Linked DNA regions of Homo sapiens. The protein of the gene in region 6 purifies or fractionates together with the protein of the main gene of each other region. This does not show direct contact. Each region holds a gene or a part of one and is shown on either strand. Other genes may lie near its edges.

Region 1 (4,147 bases), on a different chromosome or scaffold from region 6:
AGCTGATGCTCTGGAAAGAAGGAACCAGCAAGCTATTCTCTCTGGACCCTCAAGAACCAAGCAGCCACCAGAGGGCAGCCTTTGGCAGAGGCTGAGCCCTTGGACGTTGGGCTTCTCCAATGGGTGACAGAGAGCATCACAGATCTAACGCCCTGTTGTACAGTGAGCCCATCTGCGGCTGGCTCCTCTGCCACTTAGGAGCCTCCGGACCTTGATCTGGCTCAGAAAAGGGAAAAGTAATGACAGAATCCACACCATGCATTTATTAAGTGCTCACTGTAACCAAGTTCGATGTGCTTGGTGCTGGAGAGACTGGAAAGGCGCTGTCAATGTAAGCTGGTGTGGTCATGACCCCGAGCCTCCAAGTAAACACTATTAATTACAGAGAAGCAGCCTGGTGTCGGCCAGGCGCCTATTTTGGAGTCACTTACTAGCTGTGTGCCCTTCAGCAGGTAACTTGACCTTTCTGAGCATCAGTTTTTCCATCTGTGGACTGGGCATAACAACCATCCTTCCTTTGTCACATAGTTTCAAGGACTAGATGAAATGAGTATAAAAGCCCCCAGTCCAGGGCCCTGTCTGAAACCTGGAGGCCATCCCAGCCTCCCTAGCAGCCGGCGCTCAAGTTACCTGCAGCTCGGCTGCCGTCACTTTGTGGTAGATGAGCTCCTCATCACGGCGCTTCTCCTGTGGGATGGTGATGTTGGCCAGTGCCGTCTCAAAGTCCAAGATCTGCTGCATCTGGGGCCGGATGGCCTCCTCGTCCCCGCCGCCCAGCAGCTTCCCCAGCTGGACCATGTAGTTCAGATATCCGGTCAGCACCTGCAGGGCCCATACCCCAAACTGTCAGTGGCTGCCCCCCCACTATCCACTGGACGAGAGTTGGTGGGGGGCTTGGCCAGCCAAGTCCGGCACAGGGAGCCAGGGGGCTGCACAGTGCCCCCAAGACACCCGTGGGGCCAGGTGTGGTGGCTCACGCCTGTAATCCTGGCACTTTGGGAGGCTGAGGTGGGTGGATCACCTAAGGTCAGGAGTTTGAGACCAACCTGGCCAACATGGCGAAACCCCGTCTCTACTAAAAATACAAAAATTAGCTGAGCATAGTGGGAGGTGCCTATAATCCCAGCTACTCAGGAGGCTGAGGCAGGAGAATCACTTGAACCCAGGAGGAGGAGGTTGCAGTGAGCCCAGATTGTGCGCCATGGCACTCTAGCCTGGGCGGCAGAGAGAGACTTTGTCTCAAAAAAAAAAGAAGAAGACACCCGTGGGAGACACAGCATTGAGAATGATCTCGGGGCCGTGTCTCTCTGCTGCTTCCCTACAGCCTCCAGGAGAAAGCCCAAAGTCTTGGCTCGTCTCACAGGTCCCCACCTGGGCTGGTCCCTGTCTTCCAGGGCTTGTCCTGGGGCTGTCTTTCCATTCTTAGAATGCATCTTTTCTGACCACCCCCCACCCGTGTTCCAAGATCTGAATTAGGTCTCCACGGTAGACTTTCTCAGCTTCACTTTCTCTTAGTTAAATAATATCCGCCTCGCCGACCAAACCACAGGCCCTGTGGGACGAAGGCTATGGTGGTCTTGTCTGCTACCATCTCCCCAGCATCAGGCACTCTGTGGGCGCTTGGTCAAGTACATGCCGGCGGAAGGATGAAAGGACAGATGAATGAGTTCCAGGTGAGGTCGCCCCAAGAGGCATCACAAGAGGCAGGCCAGGGGGAGGGAGAGCCATGGGCTTCGGAGCACGTGGATCCGGATGTGAATCTCAGGCTCGTCATTTACTGGCTATGTGACCTTGAGCAGATCACTTAGCATCTCTGAGCCTGATACCCTCTTCTGTAAAAGGCAAGACAAAACTAATTCCTGTTTGACAGATGAGGCAAATGAAGTTCAGTATCTGCAGGGTTAATGGGAGGGTCACAGGTGATGTATAAAGGGCCAGGCGAATTGTGGTAGCTGTTATTGCTGCCTCTGCCTCTCTCTAGAACCAGGACAAATGATACCTGTCTCTTGCCCCTTGTGTCCATGATGCCTGAGTGACACAGCCAGCCTAGGGGTGTCCCTCCCCTGCCAGGGTCTGCCTGTTTCACCCATCAGGTCACTGACACCCCTGGGCTCCCCTAGCTTCAAAGACCTGCACAGGTGTGGGTGTGGACACGGAGCAGGAAGGACCGTGCTGGGAGGCAGGCTGGGAGGGGAGAGGCACGCTTACCTTCTCGTTTTCAGTTTTGTTCAGGTAATAGTCTCTCGAGGGCAAGCCCAGGCCAGACTGGTCCACCTGGCAAGAGAAGCAGGCATGAGAGGGAATTCGTGTTGCAATGCGTGTATCCACTGCACGGCCTCCTGCCCTGGGAATGGCTGGCACATGGCAGCAGAGGCCCAGCTCAGGCCCTTGGAGAAGCAGGACTGCTGGCTACAGTCACTGAGAAGCCCACTCAGGGACGGGATGACACATTCCTGCCTGTCCACGTGGCCCCCCCCCGCAGGGCTCCTGGGCTCCTCAGAAGGGCTGGACAGAGCCACCCTCCTTTTTAAACAGCTACTTGCCTCGGCAAAGTGCCTCTATCTCCCCAACGCTTTCCAGGTGGTTAAGAGTCACTCAAAAGCTGTGTGATCTTGGCCAAGTTACTGAACCTTTCTGATTCTCAGGTTTCTTCTCAGGTAAATAGGGAAAATAAAACCTAACCTTCAGAGCTAGAATGGGGATTCAAGAAGACAGTGCTGGTCAAGTGCCTGCCAAGCAGGAGGGGAGGGTCAAATTCTGCTTGCTACTATTGGCACCCATGGCCACATCTTGGCATACCTAGGACAGGTGTTATTGCAATCCATTTGATTTATAAGGTAACTGTAGCTCTGAGAGGTTGAGGCACTTGCCCAAGGTCACACAGTGACTGAATGGTAGAGATGGGCTGGGAACTCAGCTTTTAGGACCCCCAGCCTGGGTTTCTCACTTCTGCATTGGAGGTTGGGGCAGACCAGTGCTGGAGCTCCCCTGGGCAGGCTGAGCCTCTGTCTGGGGCATGCTCTGACAGGGAGAGATGGATTCAAACCCATTCCAAGAAGAGTTACAAAGAGCAGACGCTAAGGAGGGGGAAACCAGGATGTGGGTTCAGCTGTGCCCAGGAGTTGACATCATTCTTGGGGCCCACGGAAACCCATCAGCACCCAAAGTTTCACCTGTATGCAGTGCCCATCTACGCAAGGCCAGCAGCCTGCAAAGATCTCACCAGTGGGGCCTCTGGAAATAACCCAGGCTCAGAAACTAGAAGACCGCCGTCCCACCCAGGGCAAGCCCCTCTCCCACCCCAGGTCCTGCTAAACTCAAAACAGGAAGAGGTCGTGCCCGCCCCCTCGACCGCTGCAGGTTCAAGCTAGCTCACCTGGATCACGTTGCTGTTGGAGTTCTTGGAATCGGCACTGACATAGACAGAGAAGAAGGGTGAGGTGCGGTAGTGGGCGGTGACCACCTGCAGGGTGTCCTGGAAGTTGTCCTTGGCCCAGGGACCTGTGATGTTCCAGCCCCCGAGCTGTGGGGAGGGAGAGCAGGCAGGGAGGTGATGAGGTGGCGGGGAGACCCAGATGTGAATTCTGGTTCTGCCGCTGACTTGCTCTGTGACCCTGGAGCAGTCGCCTGACCTCTCTGAGCCTCAAGAGCAAAGGAAAGGATTGGTCTTCATCGGGGGTTTCCGACCCATGAGCTGGAGACCCATGGATGGAGCAAAGGCTTATCCTAGACAAGCCAAGCAGCCAGGCATGAATCCAGCCGCTCCCTGGGTGGCTGGGATGAGAATGGGAAAGAGACTTTTCCCGGTTCACGGTTTATATTTTGGATAATGAATTGTGTGAATGTGATTATATCAAAACATAAATTCAATTGTGCCTCTGGGATAAAAAAGGCTCCACATGTTTAAGAAGGTTGGTAAATTACGGTCTACTTTAGTCTCAAAGTTGGGATTTTAAAAAAATTTTTTTTGAGATGGAGTCTTGCTCTGATTCCCAGGCTGAAGTGCAGTGGGGCCATCACAACTCACTGCAGCCTCCACCTCCTGGGCTCAGGTGATTGTCTCACCTCATCCTCCTAAGTAGCTATGACTACAGGTGTGTATCACCACACCTGGCTAATTTTTAAATTTTTTGGAGATGGGGTCTTG
Region 2 (4,147 bases), on a different chromosome or scaffold from region 6:
ACAATAATAATATGAGTACATGTGAATGGCCAATTTAGAAGTTTAAGTCATTCTTTTGTAATCAGTACTAGAATTAACTAGTGATTTTTTTTTTTGGCAAGGAATAACAAAATAATAGAAACTCCATATATATTAGAAAAAGATCTGTAAGTTTGAGCCTTATATATTATTACAATGTGGCAATCAAGAGGAAAACTCAAGACAACTGTGCGCTGTGCTTGTCCTGTTTTGTTCAAACCACGATAATTTTAAATAAATAGTAATGTTCAACATTCACTGATGACATTATCTATCAACCACATCACACCTGGAACACAGTAGATAATAAATGGCAGCTGTTATACCTTCCTTCTTGAAACAAAATCCTGTCATTTCATTCTCATTTTAACTTTGTGTTAAGCTTCTACAATCCATAAAAATGATAAAACAATAAAATGGTCCAACATTATCTAGTCCAGTCTTATTTTTACAAAACATTGACTTTAAAAGTCCCTGAGATTTTAATTTTACTGGTTTAATCTGTCTTCCCTACCCTTGTTTAAAAAAAAATAGAATCATGTGTCATTATTGGTTGAGTACCCGTTATCTGAAATCCTTGGGACAAGTGTTTTGGATTTCAAATATTGAAATATTTGGCTTATATTTACCAGTTGAGTATCCCAAATCTGAACATCGGTAATCCTAAATGCTCGATGAACATTCCCTTTGAGTGTCACATCAGAGCTTAAAAAGCTTCAAATTTTGGAGCATTTTGGATTTCAGATTTTCAGATTTGGGATGCTCAACCTGTACTAAAGAGGAAGACTAATAAGAGATTGCTATTATTAATAAATTTCTCTCAGAAAGCTTTCAAACTGCAGTCTGTAGATCACCATCTGCATCAGGACCACTGATGGCTATAAAAGGCAAATTCCTGGGTTCTGCTCAAGATCTACTGAATCACAATCTCTGCTATGAGGCCATTTTTATGACAAATTCCACTCCTTAAAATCAAATTAAAATTCCCTGGATTGCAAGCTTATTCCTCCTTGCCCACTCTTTAAAGCGAATGGGAAACACTGAGTCTCTAGACTATGCTTTCTTCCAGATTACACAGCTGTCTTTTGTTTCTCTACATTTGGTAAATTAATTGCAGTTCTTCAACTTTTCTTCTTTGATTTTTTTTTTTTTTTTTTTTTTTGAGATGGAGTCTTGCTCCATCACCAGGCTGGAGTGCAGTGGAGTGATCTCATCTCACTGCAATCTCCACCTCCCAGGTTCAAGTGATTCTCCTGCCTCAGCCTCCTGAGTAGCTGGGACTACAGGTATGAGCCACCATGCCCAGCTAATTTTTGTAGTTTTAGTAAAGATGGGGTTGCACAGTGTTGGCCAGGATGGTCTTGATCTCTTGACCTCGTGATCCACCCGCCTCGGCCTCCCAAAGTGCTGGGATTACAGGTGTGAGCCACTGCGCCCAGCCTCTTCTTTGATTTTTCTCTTTCTCACCTTTTTTTGACATCAATGCACTGTTTCTTCCTAAACCTCCTCCAGCCTCTCAATGATTGAGATTGGCAATGCAGCAATTGCAAACCAAACAGCAATGACCATATGGGAGGATTAGTTCATGGAAGTAATACTTTACCCTGTATGGATTCCTGTATGGATTCCTGTTACGGGTTAACTTTTTAAAACATGCTTCTGGACATATTTTATTCCTGAGATCAATCCTCATTACCTCCGCTTCAGGCATTGTATTTTGGAACTCTTCCCAATTCTTCCCACTGAAATTACATCTGCAAATTAACTATGTAATATTGAAAATCAATTTTTCTCCTCACAAGTATAGCAGCCATCCAAATGTCAGGCATGAATTACATGAATATGCTTACCATGCCCTAAATTCAGGGCACTATTAAAAACCCAGAAGATACCATGGTTGGTTGGGTTGAGGGCACAGCACTCTCCCAGAAGCAATTACTCATATGCAGATGCAGGAAGCATTTAAGGGTGTACCATTCAGACAGACAGCTCTCGGAAAAATGCTCTGGCTCTTAAGCACAATGCTTATGCCAGCTCACAGTCAGCACTTCATACCTGCCCAGCCAGTGTAACCGGTGCCATCCCGAGGGTCTGCTGATTTCAGGCCTCTCTCCATTTGCTGAAGAAGCTCCCGAATCTTATTGGTCAAGCGTTGTGAGAACTCAGGAGTCAGCTAGATATTAAAGGAAAACAAGTATCAAAATAATGTGGGTCACCCAGCTTGCTGGACTATAAGCTATCAAAGACAGAAAGGTATTTCTTTTCCACTTAGGACATATTTTTCCACCTGGAAGACTAAACAATTTATTTTCTATTCTTAAACAACAACATCACATTAACAAAATTTATAAAATACCGTTGTAACTTATACATGTTTTAAATAAAATTTTTAGTTAAATACTAAAACAGACTGCCAATGATAAACTGGCTCACAGTAATTTTCCACCTAATAGTAATCGTCTATTATTTAAACCAATATTATAATAAAGTCTTTTTATTAAATTAAGCACAAATCAGATGTTTGGTGCTTTCAAACTACTGGATTTTTAGTATTCAAGCTGCAGCAAGGTAAATTCCCTAAAGAAACATCTAATTGCTCTTATTTAAAAAAAAGGATTTAAAAAAAATGAAGTAGCCAAAGAAAAGCAAAACAAATTCATGTATATCAAGAGCCTTAAGCAGAATAGAAAGAATATCAAACTTAGCATCATAAACCCACGTCCAGCACAGTGTCTGGCAGAGAATACGGGCTTCACAAATGTTTCTCAATGAATGAGCCTGTCTACATCCTTACCCGCTATTAGCTGATCTTGCTCAACTCATAACTTCTTTATGTTTCAAATACCTCCATAAAGTCAGGATAATAATAACTGCCACGCCAATTTCAAAAGGTACTTTGGGGATTAAATGAGATAGTGTATCACAAGTCTTTCTCATTCAGGGATGTAAATGTTGACATTTTTACTAATTCTTTAGCAGATCAAGGGTCTAAGGCAAGTAATAGTTTAGATATGGATTGAAAATACACTAAGGCTGGGGCTGTGGGGTTAGTACCACCCATATGAAGGTCCACAGATGCTGTGCAAACAGTGAGGCTCACACAATCATTACGTTATTCTTCTTAAAGGCAAATGAAAAATAATTTTAAACTTCTGCACACACTGAATCAGTGTCTTAAAAAGTCACTGAAGGCCGGGCACAGTGGCTAATGCCTGTAATCCTAGCATTTTGGGAGGCCGAGGTGGGCGGATAACCTGAGGTTAGGAGTTCGAGACCAGTCTGACCAACATGGAGAAACCCCATCTCTACTAAAAATACAAAATTAGTCGGGCATGGTGGTGAACGCCTGTAATCCCAGCTATTCGGAAGCCTGAGGCAGGAGAATTCCTTGAACCTGGGAGATGGAGGTTGTGGTGAGCCGAGATCGTGCCACTGCACTCCAGCCTGGGCAACAAGAGCGAAACTCCATCTCAAACAACAACAACAACAACAACAAAAACCCAAAAAACTCACTTTATTGTCTCCCTCAATAATTTTAAGAACTTGCTGTGATTCTAAGACTTGAATTTCACATAGTAATTAAAATTTCAGAACAATGTGGGGGAAAGTTACAAGGGTATAAACATTTTATTTTACCATGTAAGGATTGTAGAAATAAACCTAACCACTCACATCAGAATCTCATTTTTAAAAATGAGATAAAATCTTAACACTGAAAACAGCAAGAAGGCAGTATCAGAATTAACAACAACAACAATAGTTTAAGGATACGTTAAGATTCACTTCGGAGGAGCATCCTTGATAAGGCAAATCAGACTTTCAACCACATCTGGATTATTTAATCTAAAGCACCACTATGATCCCTTATTTCACTCTTTAGAAGAAACGACGTTGTTTGACAGACACACTCCCATTATTTAACAATTTCTGCAAAGAGGTTAAGATTTCAACTAGACTTGAAAATACATTTAGTAGGATAAAATATACTTCAATGTTAATACAAAAGGCCTATAAATCTCAGCTAGATAGAAGAGTGCATCTATATTGAGAACACGTCATCTACTGTATATAGATCATATATAATTTATCATCTTGCCTGGCCTTCAAGAGATCAAGAATAATGAGAATC
Region 3 (4,147 bases), on a different chromosome or scaffold from region 6:
GTATCCTGGAGACGTAACAGAGCTTTGGCTGCCCCAACCTGATCTTCATCATTAGGAAAGTACTGTCTCTGAATGGTTAGGTTAGAGATAAAGCCTTGAAATAGATAAATCAAAGAAAAAAAAACTGTAGAACCTCATAAACTTCCCATAAAGAGACTTAATAAGGATTGTTCAAAATCTATTTTATTATTTTCTACCACACCATGAAAAGTTCTACATACTCAACAAGAAAAAATTAAATACACTGAATAAGACTTGGCATACTTCTAACTTGTTCAATCTTCCAAAAGCCTAGTGTTGCTTAAGGACTGTGACGCTGTTATATAAATTGTATCTGTATTAGCAGGTAAAGATCACCTAACATAATAGTTATGAGTTTTTAGTTATATAACACAGCAAGAAAACAAAGTGCATCCACTAAGTTTGAGAAATGAACACATTTATGGGTCTGAAATGACATTCATTGACAATCAATTATACTTCCAGATAACAGATGGTAAGTAAAATATGTGCTCTTAAAGTTGTTTTTTTCTTCCATGTATTACACATTATATAAATATGTAAATATATAAAGTTTGGTGGAATTCTTCAAGGAGAAGGAAGAGATATTAACTATATATTTAAGATCAACAGCAAAGCTAGTTTACTAAAATATATTTAAATCAGTTTAATTATCAAACATGACGTTGATCAACCAAAATTTACAATATATAAACCTAATCTTAGAGGATTTATATAAAGTATGCAAAAATCAAACAAACCAATTACTGATAACTATATAACCCCAAGAAGAATGAATGCTAAACACTCCTTAAGAAATAAAAAATTGGTTTAAAATTTTAATATCAGTATCATTACTTGTGAATAAAAGTTAGGTATGAGACTTCCCTCTCTTCTCATTAACTTATAATCAACTGTTTTGTTTTTTTTTTTTTGAGACAGTCTCACTCTGTCATCCAGGCTGGAGAGCAGTGGCAGTGGCATGATCTCAGCTTACTGCAACCTCCACCTCCCAGGTTCAAGCAATTATCTTGCCTCAGCCTCCCAGTAGCTGGGATTACAGGCATGTGCCACCACACCTGGCTAATTTTTGTATTTCTAGTAGAGACGGGGTTTCACCGTGTTGCCCAGGCTGGTCTCCAACTCCTGGTCTCAAACGATCCACCTGCCTTGGTCTCCCAAAGTGCTGGGATTACAGGCATGAGCAACTGTGTCCAGCCAGCTACGTATTTTGAACAGCAAGAGACCAGGCCTTTTTTTTTTTTTTTTTTTTTTTTTTTTTTTTTGAGATGGAGTCTCGCTCTGTCACCCAGGCTGGAATGCAGCAGTGCAATCTTGGCTCATGGCAACCTCCAACTCCCGGTTCAAGCAATTCTCCTGCCTCAGCCTCCCGACTAGCTGGGATTAAAGGTGCCCACCACCAGGCCCGGCTAACTTTTATATTTTTAGTAGAGACGGGTTTTCACCATGTTGACTAAGCTCCTCTCGAACTCCTGACCTCAAGTGATCTGCCAGCCTCAGCCTCCCAAACTACTAGGATTACAGGCGTGAAATGAAAATGTACAAATGAACAAATAACTAGAAGAGGGCTAGAGTTTATATCAAGCATATTTTTATGCTGTTTTGTCTCTTTTTAGAGACAGAGTCTTGCCATGTTGCCCAGGCTGAAGTGCAGTGGCTTTTTACCAGTATAATTCCATTATTAGATCAATCATGGGAGTTTTGACCTGCTCTGTTCCCAACAATATTTTTAGTTTTACGACCAACTCTCAGTTGCAATCTCTATATGGAATTTTACAAGCAAGTTTTATAAGTTTTATAGAAGGCTATAATATCTCTTATGCTACAAACAAAATTCTAAGAAAAATTAAAATATATATACTCTCTCATAGCATTATAGAATGACTACTACAGATTAAAACAACAAAGTGCCAAGGTTCACATTATAAAACAACTTAGTTCATTACTTGAGAATAAATATATCGATTTCCTTTAAAAAATGGTTCAGGGGCCAGGAACCATGGCTCACGCGTGTAATCCCTAGCGCTGTGGGAGGCTGAGGTGGAAGGATCACATGAGGCCAAGAATTTGAGATCAGCCTGGGCAACATAGCAAGACCTTGTTTCTAAGAAAGAAAAATTTTTAAATTGGCCTGGCGTGGTGGTCTATGCTTGTAGTGCTAGCTACTGAGGAGGCTGAGGTGGGAGGATTGCTTGAGCCCAGGAGTTCAAAGCTGCAGTGAGCCACCATTGTGCCACTGTACTCCAGCCTGGGCAACAGTTAGACAGTGAGACCCTGTCTCCAAAAAAAAAAAAAAAAGTTCCCAAGGTGTTATACAGTACAGAAAATAATCACAGGCATTTCCCTCTCACAGTAAAGAAGTATTCACAAGTACTTGCCATATTTTTCTTTTCAAGGCTTCCTGATCCCTGTGCATAATAAGTTTACTTCACTGCTTACAAACACTGGTAAGTACCCTTGGAGTATTTTATCTACACAACTAGCTCAGCTCTTTTCCGTCTCTCTCTTCTTCTTTTCTTGGCGGGGCAGGGCAGGGGCGGCGGGGGGCGAGGCATAATCCCTTTACCTCCTTAATAAAGTCCAGATTTAGTCTTCTACATCTGTTATTAAAGTATCTAAAACATTTCAATGCTCCAACTACAAATTGTATTGTATCACTTACTCATTTTTACTGTTTGCAGCCTCAGTTTGATTGTCCACATTGAGCAAACTAATTCTAAACTTCAAAATACTAGATAGAACACAGCTAATACTTCTCTTTATAGTAACACTCCCAACATTTTTTTAAATTGATTGCAGATAAAGACATAAATTTTTAAAGTTTGAAGGTAATCCTAAAATAAAAATGATTACCCTCAGAAATGAAGCTATATGCCAAATAATCTATTCACTTTTGCAGATTTCAAAACAAGTCAACAAAAAAAGAAATTACTTCTTTTTTAATCAAAGAATTCAGGATTTTGACTAAATTAACTCTATTCAAACCAAATGCACCCAGGCATAATCCAGTTACAACACTGAACTGAACTGGTTTCCTGGGAACTGAATTTATCATTAATTTTATTATTTCTACATATGGTGGCAATATTACCTTACTCAGGAATCTCTTCAGACTTACCATCTGACATATCCTTAAGGACCAGATTCTCCAACTCACTCCACTCAGTATTCAGACGTTTCATTAATTTGAATGCATTTACTGGATGCCCAACAAATCCTTCTGGATCTTTTGTCGCTGTACTAGTTAGCCGATCTAACTTCTCTGCCCATCTACAGATGTAAAACATAAAAACTGAATATTTATATTTCATAGGGAAAAACACAATTTAATGAAACGCTCAGAAAAAAAATGACTAGAAGTTTTTGAGTTCAACTATATCTGTAGTTTCTTTTTAAAGTAAAAGTATACGGTCTCGGTCTCTTTAAAAAGCGACATCCTCTTGGCAGAATCAATACAACTATAGGACTTTTTGTTTTAATTTTGTTTCTCCCAAATGGTTACAGTAAATGGAACCTCCCTGTCTTAGTAAAAGTTGTGAATGAATCCCTCCAGTAAAAGTCTAAAAATTTTAGACTTAGGTCCCAGGGCCAAATAACTGATTATTACAAACTACAAATTAGCCCAACCCAAATTCAATTACATGTTCATTTAAATCAACTTATACTAAATTTTTACATCCAGTTTCTAGAAACTGTATCTTAAAATGAAAAACTGAACACTTAGCTACTCATTAAATAAAAGACAGGAATTCTCAGGTCAGGATTAACTATGAACATGAGTCAATTAAAAATAAATTCATATTTGAGAAAAACTGTATCAATTAAATAACACTAACGCTACCATCACTATAATCTCTACAATGGAACCATGGGAGTAAAGGATAAGTAGAATTGGAAAATTGCTGCAGCAGGTGGCTTGACTAAGAGGTTAGAAGAGGATAGAAGATATTAGCAATACTTTTAAAATTTATCAGTCAGGCTGGGTGCGGTGGCTCACGCCTGTAATCCCAGCACTCTGGGAGGCTGAGGAGGGCAGATCACCTGAGGTCAGGAGTTCGAGACCAGCCTGGCCAACATGGCAAAACCCCGTCTCTACTAAAAATACAAAAATTACCCGGGCATGGTG
Region 4 (4,147 bases), on a different chromosome or scaffold from region 6:
CACACCAAGCAAAATCCTGGTTGTTTGAAAACATTAACAAGATAGCTTCCAAACTGGCCTTACAGGAATATAAAACAGGGATATTATGTATTTTTAAAAATATTCTAAAAAAATAATTAAATGAAAACTAGATCAACAGTTCTCAAAGTGTGATCTCAGGACCCCTGGGGAGCCCGAAGACCTTCTTAGGAGGCGCCCACAAGGTCAAAACTATTTTAATACTAAGGTATCATTTGCGTTTTTAATTCTATTATTTCTCTGAGTGTAGAGTGGAGTCTTCCAGAGGTTACGTGATATATAATGATGTCATATTGGAATATGTGCTTGTGTAGTCTTCTGTTTTAAACATTTCTCAAAAATACATATCAGTTTCAATTTCTAATATTGTAACTATCAATAGGTATGGAAACATAAGTTCTTTGGGGTCCTCAATAATTTTTAAGAATATGAGGGGCCCAGGAGTTTAAATTGGATTATAAAATCTGCAAGGGTAGAGACTGCCTCTTGTTTAGTGTTATATCCATAGCTCTTAGCACACTGCCTTGCAAATGGTACACACTCAGTAAATATTTGTCAAATGAAAGAATGACTGCCAAAGCATGTACCCAAAAGTGCATTTAGATATAGAAAGCAAACACCTAAAGTGGTCTTTATTTTTCCTTGGTTGTTTTTTCCAGTTACCAGCTTGGATTAAAAATGGTCCCTTCCTTAGTGTATAGTGTATAGATAGTGCATATCTTGATGATATGGCCAGGAATGTCTAGTAACTTGGCCAACATCCTATGTTTTCATCAATGAGCTTATAATTCCACCTCCTGATTCTTCCTGGGAAATAAGCAAATGTCTGGCAGAACAGATGGCCCCTCTGCTGTGGCCTGACAGAATGAAATCTTGGATTTATTTAACAATAAAGCAAAGTAGTTTCCACAGGCAGGAATCTTCCCCTCCTCACCAAATAATATTTCCTTTAATGTAAACTTGCAGATTAATAGTAATTATAAGTAGTAATCTCCTCAGTCAGAATTACCATCTTAAGGAATGAAGACATGGTCTAAAATAATCACTATACAAATATAAACACCTTTTTTAAAAATGCATATTCCCAAAATTGCAGATTACGATCCCACAGCAACCTGCCTCCAGTAATGGATTTTATGATAAGCACTTTAACCTGAGTTCTGTTCCTAATGAGTCTGATTCAGCAAGTCTGGGATGGGGTCTGGTATTTTCTAAATCTTTGTAAGTGATTTAGATGCATCTCCTAGAGTCTAGGGGCTATGCTGACAACTGTTAGCCTACTATATTGTCTTAATCATTAATAAGGAATGCACTCATAGTCAACATGAATTAGTAAGACACTAAAATAAACTTAATATGATTTTGATATCACAAGATCGTGTTTCTAAAAGCCAGGAAAGAATTTGGATAATTTTGCTTAGGAGTTAGAGAATCTTGCAAGGAAATTAACGACACTGCCTCCGTTTACAGTGCTATAGTTTCTTCCTGTGCTGAGCCAATCACATTGCTCCGTTATAAACTTGGAAAAGAGAAACTAGGAGATGAAGCATGTCTATGAGAGGTCAACAGCTGGAAAGTCACACTGAGGCGGGGCTGAGCAAGCCCGGATGAGTACAGAGCCAGGCTGAGTAAACAGAGGAAGCCTGTTGGTGGAGAAAGCAGAGGAAAAAGTGGGAGGCAGAGTGTGCCTGCTTCCTGCTGACTTTCCACTTTCGGTTGTCCTCTCAGGAGGCCTTACTGTGCCGTGGTTCTTGCCCTTTGATTTCTATGAGCTTCCCCTTCCAGATTTACAGAAACAAAAAAAAGAATCCTCTCTTGCCAGAGCTAGTTTGAGTAGGCCTCAACTCCTTAAGAGAGCCAAGAAGCGGGATACATTGTGGTCTGTAAGGACAATGTAGCATGAGAGGTGAGGGATGGCCATAGAATTTATTGTCCAAAGCAGAAATCTTTTGGAGGAAAGGGGGTGTTAGTGATTACACCAGCACAACAGGTACACAGAAACCATGTAGGACTATTCCAGGCAAATGGGATGTATGGTCATCCTTGAGATGGGAAAAGTGGGTTCAGGATCAGAAGGCTAGCTGGCACGCTCTCTCCTTCCCTCTCCATTTGACTTTAGATAAGTCACTTCTATTCCAAGAGCCTCAATTTCCTTGACCGTAAGATAACAGATTTAAGATATCTTTACAGGTTTTTTTCTGATCAAGAAAAATCTCAGACTAAGATAAGTCTTCTTTGAATAGAGGCAACTCAGGAGATGAGGTAGATATGCAAGAAGGAGCCTTTTAAAATGATATATAGCTGAATGCCTTTACATACACATCAATAAAGATGTTTTGCTGATTTGACTTTAAAAAACAAGATCCCATAGTCACCAATCAAAGCAATCTGGTTATCAGTGATTACATTTTACTTCTTTTTTTATTTTTATTTTTATTTTTTTTGAGACAGAGTCTTGCTCTGTCGCCCAGGCTGGAGTTCAAGGGAGCCATCTTGGCTCACTGCAACCTCCGCCTCCCGGATTCAAGCGATTCTCCTGCCTCAGCCTCCCGAGTAGCTGGGACTACAGGCACCTGCCACCATGCCTAGCTAATTTCTGTATTTTTAGTAGAGACAGGGTTTCACCATATTGGCCAGGCTGGTCTCGAACTCCCGACCTTGTGATCCACCCGATTCAGCCTCCCAAAGTGTTAGGATAACAGGCGTGAGCCACCACGCCTGGCCTATATTTTACTTCTTGAGGAATCGGTAGAACAGCTCCAGAGTTTCTATGGCTCCCAAAAGAAACCAGCTGGTACTGACTTGCCCAGAGCCTCAGGTCCAGATGAAGGGGAAGTGTATTTGTCCTGTTCATTGCATCTCTGAGACCTAATGCTACAGTCCTGCCTTGACCTGTGAAGAGGAAGTCAAAGGTGTAAACAGTCTCCCACTGGTTCCCTTGCCATCCCATCCCTTGTTGGCCAGCCCTGACTGTGGCCAGTTCTGCATCCCTATTACTGGGAGACAGTCAACCTGCCAGCACGTCTGCAGAGATTAGGAGCGCAAACTTAATATTCTGAACTGCATAGCTGCTCTTAAAGGTCATGGGATCTCAGAAGTTTGGAGCTAAGAGGAACCATAGCTTGTATAATAAGTTTCAATTCACAGATGACAAATATAGCTAAAGACATAACAACTGTTAACGTTCAGGCATTGTGCGAGGCATTGTGCTGGGTGCTTTATAGATATCATATTATTTCATTCTTGTGACAACTCTGAGTTAAGTATTCTTATCCTTATTGTTCCTATTTTCAAAATGAGGATCCTTAGGATTTGAGGGATTAAATAACTTGCCACTGTGCTTGTTCAGCTTAGTCCAAGAAATCCTTAGGGACAGAAAAAAAATGTTTGATTCAGTTCTGCTGATTCTCAGGACACTCTTCTTTCTATTAAAATGATCACAGGCGAGTGAAGAGGCATTTAATATGTATCTCAGGCACTGTGCTAGGTGTCAAGGCAGTTCACTGGGATACCAGATGAAATGTAACGTAAACTCCTGCCTTTCCAGGCCTAAGGGAGGAAAAGGAACTGCTGGGTCTCTGCAAAGCTCTCTCTTCATGAAGGCCCAAACGCTTGTAAGGAAATGCCTTATTAATGCTCACAATATCCCCTAGGAAGAGGGTGTGGGAAAAAGAGAAGTACTATTATGCCTCTCTTGCAAATGAGAAAATTGAAGCAGAAACAATTACAGGCCTTGCCCAATACGAGGCAGTCACCACTGAGGCCAAAAATGAAACAAAATTGTCTTGGTTCCTTCCACGATATTCACTGGCCAAAATTAAAAGTCTCTCTTCAGTTACCTCTGGTCACTGCAGGGTTCAAGGACAATTATCATTTGAGACAACTTTTTGGATAGGAATTCTCTTACTAAGCTTCCCACACCTACTCATTTGAATTTCATCCCTTTTCCCTCTTCCCTTTTTGACATAGACAAGTCGGGGCATAGACAATCTTCAAATGAAAAAACAAAGAACTGGAAATATCAGAGTAGATTATATTATAACTACATTAGAATCAAGTTATGAATGAATTCTCCCATAGTAATACTAGTGGCAATAAAGATGACTGCCACATATTGATTACCTATTCT
Region 5 (4,147 bases), on a different chromosome or scaffold from region 6:
GCAAAACCCCATCTCTACTAAAAATAAAAAATTGAGGCCAGGCACGATGGCCCACGCCTGTAATCCCAGCACTTTGGGAGGCCGAGGTGGGTGGATCACGAGGTCAGGAGTTCAAGACCAGCATGGCCAACATGGCAAAACCCCATCTCTACTAAAAATAAAAAATTGGGGCCGGGCACGATGGCTCACGCCTGTAATCCCAGCACTTTGAGAGGCCGAGGTGGGTGGATCACGAGGTCAGGAGTTCAAGATCAGCCTGGGCAAGATGGTGAAACCCCCACTACTAAAAAAAACAAAAAAAAAATTAGCCGGGCGTGGTGGTGGGCGCCTGTAATCCCAGCCATTTGGGAGGCTGAGGCAGAGAACTGCTTAAATCCAGGAGGCAGGGGATGCAGTGAGCTGAGATCGCGCCACTGTACTCCAGCCTGGGTGACAGAGCAAAACTCCGTCTCAAAAAAATAAAAATAAAAATAAATAAAAATAAAAAATTGGGCCGGGCACAGTGGCTCATGCCTGTAATCCCAGCACTTTGGGAGGCCGAGGTGGGCGGATCACCTGAGGTCGGGAGTTCGAGACCAGCCTGACCAACATGGAGAAACCCCCGTCTCTTACTAAAAATACAAAATTAGCTGGGCGTGGTGGCACATGCCTGTAATCCCAGCTACTAGGAAGGCTGAGGCAGGAAAATCGCTTGAACCTGGGAGATGGAGGTTGCAGTGAGCCGAGATCACACCACTGCACTCCAGCCTTGGCAACAAGAGAGAAACCCCGTCTCAAAAAAAAATAAAATAAATAAATTTAAAAAATAATAATAATAATAAAGATATGAGCTGGCATGAGTTAAAGTATATATAATAGGAAAAAAAAAAACAAAAGTTGGTTCTTTGAAAAAATTAAGATTACTTTGTACCCCATAAATATATACAATTATAAATTGTCGGCCAGGCTCAGTGGCTCACGCCCATAATCCCAAAAAAAAAAAAAATTGGCTGGGCACAGTGGCTTACGCCTGTGATCCCAGCACTTTGGGAGGCTGAGGTGGGCGGATCACCAGGTCAGGAGATCGAGACCATCCTGGCTAACATGGTGAAACCCCATCTCTGCTAAAAATACAAAAAATTAGTTGGGCATGGTGGCACACACCTGTAGTCCCAGCTATTCAGGAGGCTAAGGCAGGAGAATCGCTTGAACCTGGGTGGTGGAGGTTGCACTGAGCTGAGATCGCACCACTGCACTCCAGCCTGAGCAACAGAGGGAGATTCCATCTCAATAAAAAATAAAAATTAAAAATAAATAAAAAACTAGCCAGCCCTGGTGTCAGGCACCTATAATCCCAGCTACTCAGGAGGCTGAGGCAGGAGAATTGTTTGAACCCAGGGGGCAGAGGTTGCAGCGAGCCAAGGTCACGCCACTTCACTCCAGCCTGGGCAAAAGAGCAAAACTCTGTCTCAAATAAAAACATTAAAGATATTAACTATGAATAAATTAGGAAACTACAAGTCCAGACAGATCTGGTCTGTGGCTTAAATAACTAGAAATAATGTCGACATCTCTATCCACCCATCCACCTTAGGCCCTCCTCACTTTAAATCTATGATTACAAAATAGAAAACTCGGCTGGGTGCAGTGGCTCATGCCTGTAATGCCAGCACTTTGGGAGGCCGAGGCAGGTGGATCACTTGAGGTCAGTAGCTCAAGACAGGGCTGGCCAACATTGTGAAACCCCATCTCTACTAAAAATACAAAAATTAGCCAAGCGTGGTGGCACATGCCTGTAGTCCCAGCTATTCAGGAGGCTGAGGCAGGAGAATCAATCACTTGAACCCGGGTGAGCCAAGATCGCGCCACTGCACTCCAGCCTAGCCAACAGAGCTAGATTCTGTCTCAAAAATAAAAATTAAAAATAAAATAAAATAAAATAGAAAATTCAGTCTCTGGAGGAAATATACAAAAAGCCATAAGGTGGCAATGTTAAAGTCTGCACATATGCAATCTCTTCATATAATATTCAAAAACAGTAAATCTGCCTATTTAGCTTCCCTCTATTTAAGCTTAATAACCTTTCTACTTACTACTGCACTGTTCTATCCCTCCCTCTCCCTTCACTTTCAAGTGGGCCATAAAACACAACTGAGGCATATTCATATTCACCTGGATATAATTTTATTAACATTAAAATCTGGTAAATGTTTATCTCTCCCACAAAATTAAATCTATATAGCTCTCAACTAGTTTTTCCTATGCCCCCATGAACCTTGAAAGAAACCCAAAGTTCAGCACCCCAGCTGACAATATAAAATGCTTAGACGGGAGTCATTCTTTGAGACGGAGTCTCATTCTAAAATTCTTTGAGACAGAGTCTCGCTCTGTTGCCCAGACTGGAGTGCCGTGGCACAATCTCCACTCACTGCAAGCTCCACCTCCCGGGTTCATGCCATTCTCCTGCCTCAGCCTCCCGAGTAGCTGGGACTACAGGTGCCCGCCACCATGCCCGGCTAATTTTTTGTATTTTTAGTAGAGACGGGGTTTCACCGTGTTAGCCAGGATGGTCTCGATCTCCTGACCTCGTGATCCGCCCGCCTCAGCCTCCCAAAGTGCTGGGATTACAAGCGTGAGCCACCACGCCCGGCTAGGAAAATGTGTTTTTAAAAGTGATGTGATGACACAAAAATTACTTCCATTGCTTGATATGGTTTAATAGAATCAACCTTTATAGTCTCCAATGCCGTGAATAAGTTAAATAAGTCTAATGACTTGACTTTAGACTTCAAGTCATATATATATGAAACATCAAGTCATATATAATTAAGATGCTAACTTCCCCCAGATAAAGAGACAAAGTATTTTTCATCAGTTCTCCAATTTAAAGCAAGGCTATAATATTTTATTAAAAATATCTATTTTGGCCATGGTACCTCCTGCCTACAAGCCCAGCACTTTGGGAGGCTGGGACCAGCAGTTTGAGACCAGCCTGGGCAACATACTGAGAACCTGACTCTACTAGAATTTGAGACAGAGTTTCGCTCTTGTTGCCTGGAATGCAATGGCGCAATCTCGGCTCACCGCAACCTCCACTTCCCGGGTTCAAGCGATTCTTCTGCCTCAGCCTCCTGAGTAGCTGGGATTACATGCGTGCGCCACCATGCCCAGCTAATTTTGTATTTTTAGTAGAGACGGGGTTTCTCCATGTTGGTCAGGATGGTCTCGAACTCCCAACCTCAGGTGATCCACCTGCCTTGGCCTCCGTTATGTGCTGGGATTACAGGCATGGGCCACCGCACCAGCCAGAAATTTTTAAACATTAGGCCAGGCATGGTGGCTCACACCTGGAATCCTAACAATTTGAGAGGCCAAAGGAGGAGGATCACTTAAGCCCAGGAATTCAAGAACAGCCTGGGCAACACAGTGAAACCTTATCTCTCCAAAAAGTTTTTTTAATTAGCCAGGCATAGTGGCGAACACCTGTGTGGTCCCAGCTACTTAGAAGGCTGCAAGAAAAAGTATGCTTAAGCCCAGGAGGTCAAAGCTGCAATGAGTTGTGATCAGGCCACTACACTCCAGCCTGGGTGACAAAGTGAGGCCTTCTCTCAAAAAAAAAAAAAAAAAAAAATACACACACACACACACACACACACTCATGCACGATATAATGACATTTCAGTCAATGACAGATCAGTAAGATTATAATGGAGCTGACAAATTCCTATCACCTAGCGATGTCGAAGCCACTGTAAGGATGTAGCACAAAACATTACTCACTTGTTTGTGGTAATGCGGTGTAAACAAACCTACCGCACTGCAAGTCGTATAAAACTATAGCACGTAAAATTATGTATAATAAATAATACTTAATAACAAATTCGGCCAGGCGCAGTGGTTCACACCTGTAATTCCAGCACTTTGGGAGGCAGAGGCAGGCGGATCACCTGAGATCAGGAGTTTGAGACCAGCATGGCCAACATGGTGAAACCCTGTCTCTACCATAAATACAAAATCAGCTGGGTGTAGTGGCACGCGGCTGTAGTCCCAGCTACTTGGGAGGCTGAGGGAGGAGAATCGTTTGAACCTGGGAGGTGGAGGCTGCAGTAAGCAGCCAAAATCACACCACTGTACTCCAGCCCGGGCAACAGAGTGAGATTCTGTCTCA
Region 6 (3,824 bases):
CCCAGAATGGTAGATCCACCAACAGCTTGCACCATGTGCCTGGAAAAGCTGCAGACCCTCAACACCAGCCCATGATGCAGCCAGGAAGGAAGCTATACCTTGCGAAGTCACAGAGGTGGAGCTGCCCCAGACCATGGGAACCCACCTCTTGCATCAGTGTGACCTGGATATGACAGATGGAGTCAAAGGAGGTCATTTTGGTGCTTTAAGATTTGACTGCCCTGCTGGATTTTGGACTTTTAAGGGGCCTGCAGCCCCTTTATTTTGGCCAATTTCTCCCATTTGGAATGGCTGTATTCACCCAATGCCTGTACCCCCGTTGTATCTAGGAAGTAATTAACTTGCTCTTGATTTCACAGGCTCATAGGTGGAAGCAACTTGCCTTGTGTTGGATGAGACTTTGGACTGTAGACTTTTGACTTAATGCTGAAATGAGTTAAGATTTTGGGGGACTGTTGGGAAGACCTGATTGGTTTTGAAATGTAAAGATACGAGATTTGGGGGGTGCAGGGGCAGAATGATATGGTTTGGCTCTGTGTCCCCACCCAAATCTCATCTTGTAGCTCCCATAATTCCCATGTGTTGTGGGAGGGACCTGATAGGAGATAATTGAATCATGGGGGTGGGTCTTTCCTGTGCTGTTTTTGTGATAGTGAATGGGTCTCACAAGATCTGATGGTTTAAAAAATGGGAGTTTCTGTGCACAAACTCTCTCCCTGCCTGCTGCCATCCATGTAAGATGTGATTTGCTCTTCCTTGCTTTCTGCCATGATTGTGAGGCCTCCCCAGCCATGTGGAATTGTAAATCCAATAAACTTCTTTCTTTTGTAAATTGCAGTCTTGGGTATGTCTTTATTAGGAGCATGGAAACAGACTAATAGAATAATAAGAAGGAGTCATTTGAGGGACCTCTCCAACAGGACAGGCTGCAGGAACTGAGGGCACCAACCACAGGAGCACCAAGTCTGGCCTTGCCTCACCTTTGGTCCTCTGACCAGCAGCCTCAACATCACCCCCTTATAAGGAAATGGAGGCTGGTCCTACTCACCAGGCAGAACTTCAAAGATGCAGTAGTTACTTTGAAAAAAAAATTGCATAATTTATTTGCATGATATTCATTTTCACAATTGAACTTTACAGTTTAAAAAAGATACAAAAAAAGACAAACAGTTGTTCACATAAATAAGAAGGGGCAATAAAGAAGGAAGACGTTTTCACCATTACAACACCTTTTAGGATGTGTCTTGGGGAGCAAGCACCTTACAGTGCCAACTGTTTCCAAGGTCCCTGGGAATGCTGCTCTCTACAGAGGCATGTGCACAGACAGATCCTGCAAATGGGATTGCATGACTTTCCATTTCAAGGTTAAGTCCTAGCTGTAGAATCATTCATTTCATTCTTGCAAACCAGCCTGCTTGGCCAGGAGGCAGAACCATGGTAGAGTAGTGCTCATGGTTATGGCACTTGGCAATGCAAAAGGGACCCTTCCCCTGGTTGGAAACCCACAGCATTGGAAGGGACCACAGAGAGTCCAAAACAAAACACATCTTTCTCTTCTTCGCCGCCACCATGGGCACTTTGCTTCAGCACATTCATTTATAGAACGTTAAGTCAGGAGCCAGTCATTTTGTCAAAGCAGCTGAAATAGGCCACCACTCTTACTTGGCAAAGATGATACAGTTTCAAAGAGTTAAATGAAGGTGGACTACTTGGAGACATCAAAAGCTAAGTTTCCAGGAGCACTGAGGTAGCAATGTGTAGAAACATAACATGGAAACAGTGTACCTTAAACTGAGCATCCTTGATTTCCCCCATGGACCTCAATTTCCAGTGACTAGCAGGCCTGAAGAGGCCAACATGGTGCCAGACTTGGCGCCCTGCCAGGACCAAGGGGCATGTGCACTCTCCAGGGTGCTAGGAGCAGGGTCAGGGAGGATGAGGAGGAAGGCTGAGTCTCCCTCCCAGGAGCCCCACCCAATGTGCAGGTGGAGACCTGCACCAGGAGTGCTCAGGGCAAGTTCCTTTTCAATTGCTTCCCTCGCACCAAGGGCACTGTCTATATTCTCACCCCATAAGAACAAAAATGTTTCTGTTCCCCTTACAAGTGACTACCACGTCACCACCCATGAAGGGCTGGTCCCTTTATTTCTGGCCACCATCCAGGGCTGCTAAGGCTCTAAGAACCCATCAGCAAAATCCCCTTGTGGAGAGGTAGGCTGGGGACACTACCAAGTGGCCCCAGAGGGCAGCCGCTGCAGGTGCCACCTGGCTGTCTCCCTTTCCATGTCTCTCCTTTTTCATCTCAAGTCATCCAGCAGCTGAGAGGTGACAGCTCCATGCTCATCCAAAATTGGCCCCTGGAAAGGACTCAGCAGGAAGATCTCAATGGGGCAGCCTCCACCCCTCTCCTCCACACTTGACCGCCAGTGCCCACAACCAGCCGGCCATCACCCCTTGCGGACAAGGGGTTAGGGAGAGCAGGCTGGGCAGGGGAGCCACTGCAGCCTGCACAGAATGGCAGAGAGTGCCAAAGCCAGACAAGTTCACTGTTTAATAAAAATGAAGTGACCTCTGAATCATCTCTAAGAGTAAATCATGCACGGGGAAGCAAAACCAGCCCCATTGTTTTCTTGTAAAACGACGTCAAGGACGAAGACCATGTGGATTAGCCGTCTGCCTGTTCAAATAGGAAAAAAAAAAGTGTGTTATTTTCTTAAGACAAACAAAGGTGGAAAATAATTTTTTCCTCTAGGTTCGCATGAAGCACTTAGAAACCAAATAAGCAAGCTTAATAGCACAAAGGGATCATTCTTCTCTCCAACGTGTTGGTCAGAGTCAGGCTGAGCATGGCGGGGCAGGAGCTCCGGAAGGAGCGGGCAGCGGATGTGGAGGCCGGCACAACAGGCATCTCTTCAGCAGAGTCTGGGCCTCCCCCGGCTGCTCTCCTGCCACGCAGCCCTTCCCTCCCTGCACAGCCATGCGGACCCACCTGCAGCCGCCAAACACACCTGGATCATTTCCTAGCTCCATCCTGGTGCGAGTCCGCCCCTCAGCCTGGCTGACCATCCCAGCCCTGCCAGCTTCCCTCCTGCCCTGCCTCCTCCTCCTGGGGTCATCTGTTTCTAGCACTGGGCCCTGGGCCAGGTGACGCCCCCTGGGCCCCATGGTCATGGGAAGGCCCTGAGTCCCGCGTGTCATTTGAAGGAGACACAGGTCGGGCCTCAGCGGGAAAGGCCCCCTGGTTCTGCTCCTCCTTCAACAGACTGGGCATCTGGGAGATTTGGGAGAAGACAGAATAGACTGCTTTCTTCCACTAGTAGCCCAGCCCCAGAAAGCACAGAAATCTGAGAAAACTATACGTCTGAGGTCCTGGAGATGAGAAGATCTGGTTCTCACCCCCTATCTGGACAATGCCCAAAGCCAGGGCTCTGCTAAGCAGAGACATCCATGAGGCTCACATGGAACCCCTGAGACCTTCCCTCGTGCTTGAGTCTGGGGCATCAGAGAACCCTGGCTGCTCCTGCCCTTCCTAACCTTGGGGGCTGCCCAGGAGCCACTCGATGGCCCCAGAAAAGGATGGGCACAGCCGGCTCTTCCCTCTGCTCTCTATAAATCAAAAGTTTCATGTGAGGCCGGGCACCGTGGTTCACACTTGTAATCCCAGCACTGTGGGAGGCTGAGGTGGGTGAATCACCTGAGGTCAGGGCTTCGAGACCAGCCTGGCCAACATGGAGAAACCCCATCTCTACTAAAAATACAAAAAGTAGCTGGGCGTGGTGGCGCATGCCTGTAGTCCCAGCTACTTGGGAGGCTGAGGCAGGAGA
Region 7 (4,147 bases), on a different chromosome or scaffold from region 6:
TAAACCAATTTTTGTTTATATACTACACACACACACACACACACACACACACACACACACACACGCTCAAAAGAGAAATGATAATAGTTTGACCAAAATGGTAAGAGTTGGAAGAATTATCTATTTGATGAGATTATAGTTCATTTTTACAGTTTTATTTCGCAAATTTTCTCCAATGAGTACATACTGCTTTTATAGTGGGAGAGGACGATCATATTTTGGAAGCATACCTGCTCGCCAGTAAAATTGTATAAGGAGGACATGTTCTTCCCATCATAAATATAAACCTGTGAAGGAAAAATAGAAGTATGTGAAATCTGGTAAAATAGAAGATAACTTAGAGATTTTTTAAAAAATACCTTTTAACTGTCCTACCATTCCCAAAGTCCTTGCTGCTCTTGGAACTCCTGAAACAAAGTCTGAAACAAACAAACAAACAAATTATTCATTTTTTAGGACAACACTGGAAGTTGCAGACCAGAAGTGACTATGTCAGCAAGCTTTAAGTTTTACTACTTCAGTTCAAAACAAACAATCAATTTAGAAAAATTGGTACTCCGTAATAAATAGCCCAGCATTTTTAAACTATAAAATCAAAATTTACAAAATACAAATTCTGGAGGGCTCTCAAACATATGCAAATAAGCCCTCAAGTCATTTGTAATATTGTTAAACAAGAATAGACAAGATAAAGTAACCTAAGAATGAAGAAAAACTACATTTAGTTTAGTAGTACAGTAATGAAAAATAATACAGAGCAAACTGAAGTGGGGTAGAAGTGGCTGTGGCACAAAAATGTGATCAAAATCAGGTAAAGACTGTGATTCCTAAACGGAGCTCTGAAGGAAGATGGATGGACAATGAGAGGATGGGGTAATAACCGTACAGAGATGGCCCAGAAGGTAACAAAGGATGCCTAAAGAAAGAAGACACTAATTCTTCCTCCCAGAGGAATGAATTTGCTGAAGACAAGGAGGAAAATGCTAAGGAAATCACTAACAGTGTTGGGGGCTAAAAAGAAGCAGAAAGGAAAGGCACTGAAGCCAAGTGTAGCTGTCTCAATTTCAGCAGCCACTAGAGGAAGTTCAGCACAGACCTAGCCTGGACTCTCACCAGTGTGCTAACATCTTCCTCATTTCTTCTGTTATATTCCATAACAATGGTTTAAAATTGCTTAAAATTTTATTTTCTTTTCCTTTTTTTTTTTTTTTTTTGAGACAGGGTCTCGGCTCTGTCGCCCGGGCGGGAGTGCAGTGGCGCAATCACAACTCACAGCAGCCTCAACCTCCCTGGGCTCTGGAGATCCTCCCACCTCAGCCTCCTGAGAAGCTAGACACTGGTGTGCATCACCGCGCCCGGCTAATTTTTGTGTTTTTTCTAGAGGCAGGGTTTTGCCATGTTGTCCAGACTGTTCTTGAACTCCAGGGCTCAAGGGATCCACCCGCCTCAGCCTCCCAAAGTGCTGAGATTACAGGCTGCAGCCACAGCACCCAGCCACTCAAACTGCTTAAAATTTTCAATGCCACATGTTTCAAATACTTAATCTAATTTTTTTAAAGATTAGATATAGTTCAAGTACTTCATACCATCTATGCCATCACCATTGAAATCTCCGACAGCCACAGAATAACCTAAACAGGAAACCAAAGGGGAGAACCATCAGGACAAGGACGTTATCTTCAGCAGGCTTGCTGAGTAAGCATTCCTTGAAAATATTTTCAAGAAACTCCTTTACTTATGCAATATTTTGTCCCCTAGTCATAACAGATTCATATATATATGACATATGAATTTTAAATGAAACTGAGTTAAATACTCAAATAGTCTATTTTTATTACAAAACTACAATTGTCTTATTAACTTTACAAAGGAGTCTGTTAAAAACACCAAATTTACAACTCATCATAAAGAACAAATAAATTCTCTCAATCAGCAAGTACTATTTCTGTCATATATGACTTGTTTTAATATATCATAAAGAAATTGAAAGAGAGAACACATGTTAATAAGTCCTAAAGACCAAAACTTTTATTTAACATCATGAAGAAAACTTCAGGAGTTAGACTGTCTCCATTTGAATCTCTGAACAGCAAGTTACAAGCGAGTGACTTTGGGCAAGTTATTTTGCGTCTCAGTGCCTCAGTGTTTTCACCTACAAAATGAGAATAATACAGTATGCTTGACTTGTGAGGATTAAATGAGTGAATACAAACCAAGTCACCTTGAACAATGCCCAGAACACAGTAAGCATATCTTAAAGGCTAGCTATTATTATTATCACTGCACAAATAATCACTGTCTTCAATTTCAATTACTGAAACGTAACATAACCAAAGTACTCATTAACAATTTGAAATTGTATATTCTGTATGTTTCAAAAAATCCTAATCTATTTCACATAAAATATTTTTCTACTTAAAAGACCATACTCAGATATAAGATATATGTACCACAGTTCCAAAAATGAGTAAATTTTGGTTTTACCTACCCAAATAGCTGTCATCAAAAATAGCTTGTGCAGTCCGAGTTGCTAATTGGTTATTATACTTGATGCTGTAAACATTGGGGTCGTATTTAGATACGATTTCTGCCACTTGATCCGAAATAAGCTGACCTAAAAAAGGGTGTATATATAAAATAAATAACCTTCAAATGGAAACTTTATGATACAGATAATGTATGGTACCTGCATGAAGGAAAACAATATTAGATATTAGTACTTCTAATTATTAGCCGTACATAACTCTCCTTGATCATACTCAATTTGAAAATGGATATTCTTAACTTAAAATTATTTCTGTTTAAGCCAGTACTTAAAAGTAGTCTCTGCTAATAAAAATTTAAGAAAACAGGACTTGTCTTAAATCACTAGAAAGCAATGTTAAATACACGGAATAATAAAATCAAAGGCTATCACCCAACTAATCCATTAAAACATGAAAAATTTACTGAAACAATACTGTTACTTTTATAATCAGAATAATTGGTTCAATTGATATTTTTTAACTAGTAATTTAAACATCTTTAGGAAACAACCTGAATGGATGAGTTCACCTTTGTTCACAACCTTGTTATTAAGCAGACAAGAAATCTAGATGACTACACAAAAATCAGCCTGCCCTCCATGCCAAGAAAGGATAGCTGGTTTATCAAGTGTTGTCTCCACAATATGGACACAGTAATCTCTTATCATTTCTGCTGTTTTAGAAAGAAATGTGTAACAGCTAACATTTTCAGTCCTGTTCCCATCTGTTCAGTCACAGAGACTGGATCTACAGCACAGAAGCACTTTCTCTGTCCAGGTCACTACTTTATCATCTGGGCTTCAGCGGTACCAAGAACATATGAAATTCAATAAACATTTCCTGAATTGAAGAACAGAGGAAAATTCATTATTTCTTCTGAATAAAACATTATTCTTTTCTCCATTCTAACAACGACAATTCTGAGATCTGTGAAAAAATTCATTCTAACGTACTTATCCAGGGTGACATCTGCTGATTTTAATCTTATTAAAACAAAATACTATTTGCCAATTCACTGAGTCTGCTAGCTATATATTACAGACAACTTGTAATAAAATTCTAATAAATATAATATTAATAGTACCTCTCTGTCCTAATTTATTACTGTGTCCTAATTATTACACATTCCTATTTATTATTATTCCTATTTATGCAATACCCATGGCATTAAAAAAAAAGGTCATACATTTTCACAGCTGTATCTCTTAAAAAGACAGAGTTAACAAGTAGTCCTAACTGAGAATCACAAAATTTAGCTTCCTTGACAGTTTTGGTTCCCAGGCATGCTCATCAGATACTTCCTTCCCCTCCACTGAATGACATAATCAGCAATAAAGAAGAAAAATAAATCCATATTTCTATATCTAACTATAAAGTGTTAATATCCCCTATTTTCTCATATGTACTTTAGAACTGCTATTTTTGTTTTAAAACAGTAAAACTCAATTATAATTTTTCTAAATCATTTTATTTCCCAATAGATGTATAATGCATAGAAATTCCAATTTTTCAGCTTTGCTATGTCTCACATTCTGATCCCTGTCTGTGATGCCTGAATTTTCTATTTTTTTATTCCCTCCTTTGCCTTCCCTTTCAATATTTCACTTATTCCTAGTTTTCTT

What was found.
Region 1: the proteins of TMPRSS2 (region 6) and ECE1 purify together in Homo sapiens (affinity purification with mass spectrometry, with the first as the bait; one large-scale study listed by BioGRID). This does not show direct contact.
Region 2: the proteins of TMPRSS2 (region 6) and LANCL1 purify together in Homo sapiens (affinity purification with mass spectrometry, with the first as the bait; one large-scale study listed by BioGRID). This does not show direct contact.
Region 3: the proteins of TMPRSS2 (region 6) and P4HA1 purify together in Homo sapiens (affinity purification with mass spectrometry, with the first as the bait; one large-scale study listed by BioGRID). This does not show direct contact.
Region 4: the proteins of TMPRSS2 (region 6) and SCARB2 purify together in Homo sapiens (affinity purification with mass spectrometry, with the first as the bait; one large-scale study listed by BioGRID). This does not show direct contact.
Region 5: the proteins of TMPRSS2 (region 6) and YTHDF2 purify together in Homo sapiens (affinity purification with mass spectrometry, with the first as the bait; one large-scale study listed by BioGRID). This does not show direct contact.
Region 7: the proteins of TMPRSS2 (region 6) and ITGAV purify together in Homo sapiens (affinity purification with mass spectrometry, with the first as the bait; one large-scale study listed by BioGRID). This does not show direct contact.

What each region holds. Positions count from the first base shown.
Region 1 is NC_000001.11:21,255,317-21,259,463, forward strand, and holds part of ECE1 (endothelin-converting enzyme 1), read right to left. Parts: intron 3,524-4,147; coding exon 3,377-3,523; intron 2,275-3,376; coding exon 2,209-2,274; intron 823-2,208; coding exon 631-822; intron 1-630. UniProt on the Homo sapiens protein: Converts big endothelin-1 to endothelin-1.
Region 2 is NC_000002.12:210,469,886-210,474,032, forward strand, and holds part of LANCL1 (glutathione S-transferase LANCL1), read right to left. Parts: intron 2,192-4,147; coding exon 2,074-2,191; intron 449-2,073; exon of another isoform or gene 1-448. UniProt on the Homo sapiens protein: Functions as a glutathione transferase. Catalyzes conjugation of the glutathione (GSH) to artificial substrates 1-chloro-2,4-dinitrobenzene (CDNB) and p-nitrophenyl acetate.
Region 3 is NC_000010.11:73,068,890-73,073,036, forward strand, and holds part of P4HA1 (prolyl 4-hydroxylase subunit alpha-1 isoform 2 precursor), read right to left. Parts: intron 3,292-4,147; coding exon 3,140-3,291; intron 95-3,139; coding exon 1-94. UniProt on the Homo sapiens protein: Catalyzes the post-translational formation of 4-hydroxyproline in -Xaa-Pro-Gly- sequences in collagens and other proteins.
Region 4 is NC_000004.12:76,206,925-76,211,071, forward strand, and holds part of SCARB2 (lysosome membrane protein 2), read right to left. Parts: intron 1-4,147.
Region 5 is NC_000001.11:28,760,595-28,764,741, reverse strand, and holds part of YTHDF2 (YTH domain-containing family protein 2), read right to left. Parts: intron 1-4,147. UniProt on the Homo sapiens protein: Specifically recognizes and binds N6-methyladenosine (m6A)-containing RNAs, and regulates their stability. M6A is a modification present at internal sites of mRNAs and some non-coding RNAs and plays a role in mRNA stability and processing.
Region 6 is NC_000021.9:41,463,477-41,467,300, forward strand, and holds the end of TMPRSS2 (transmembrane protease serine 2), read right to left. Parts: intron 2,678-3,824; coding exon 2,666-2,677; coding exon of another isoform or gene 2,644-2,665; 3' UTR 829-2,643; downstream 1-828. UniProt on the Homo sapiens protein: Plasma membrane-anchored serine protease that cleaves at arginine residues. Participates in proteolytic cascades of relevance for the normal physiologic function of the prostate.
Region 7 is NC_000002.12:186,634,549-186,638,695, reverse strand, and holds part of ITGAV (integrin alpha-V isoform 1 preproprotein), read right to left. Parts: intron 2,615-4,147; coding exon 2,489-2,614; intron 1,632-2,488; coding exon 1,587-1,631; intron 420-1,586; coding exon 376-419; intron 288-375; coding exon 231-287; intron 1-230.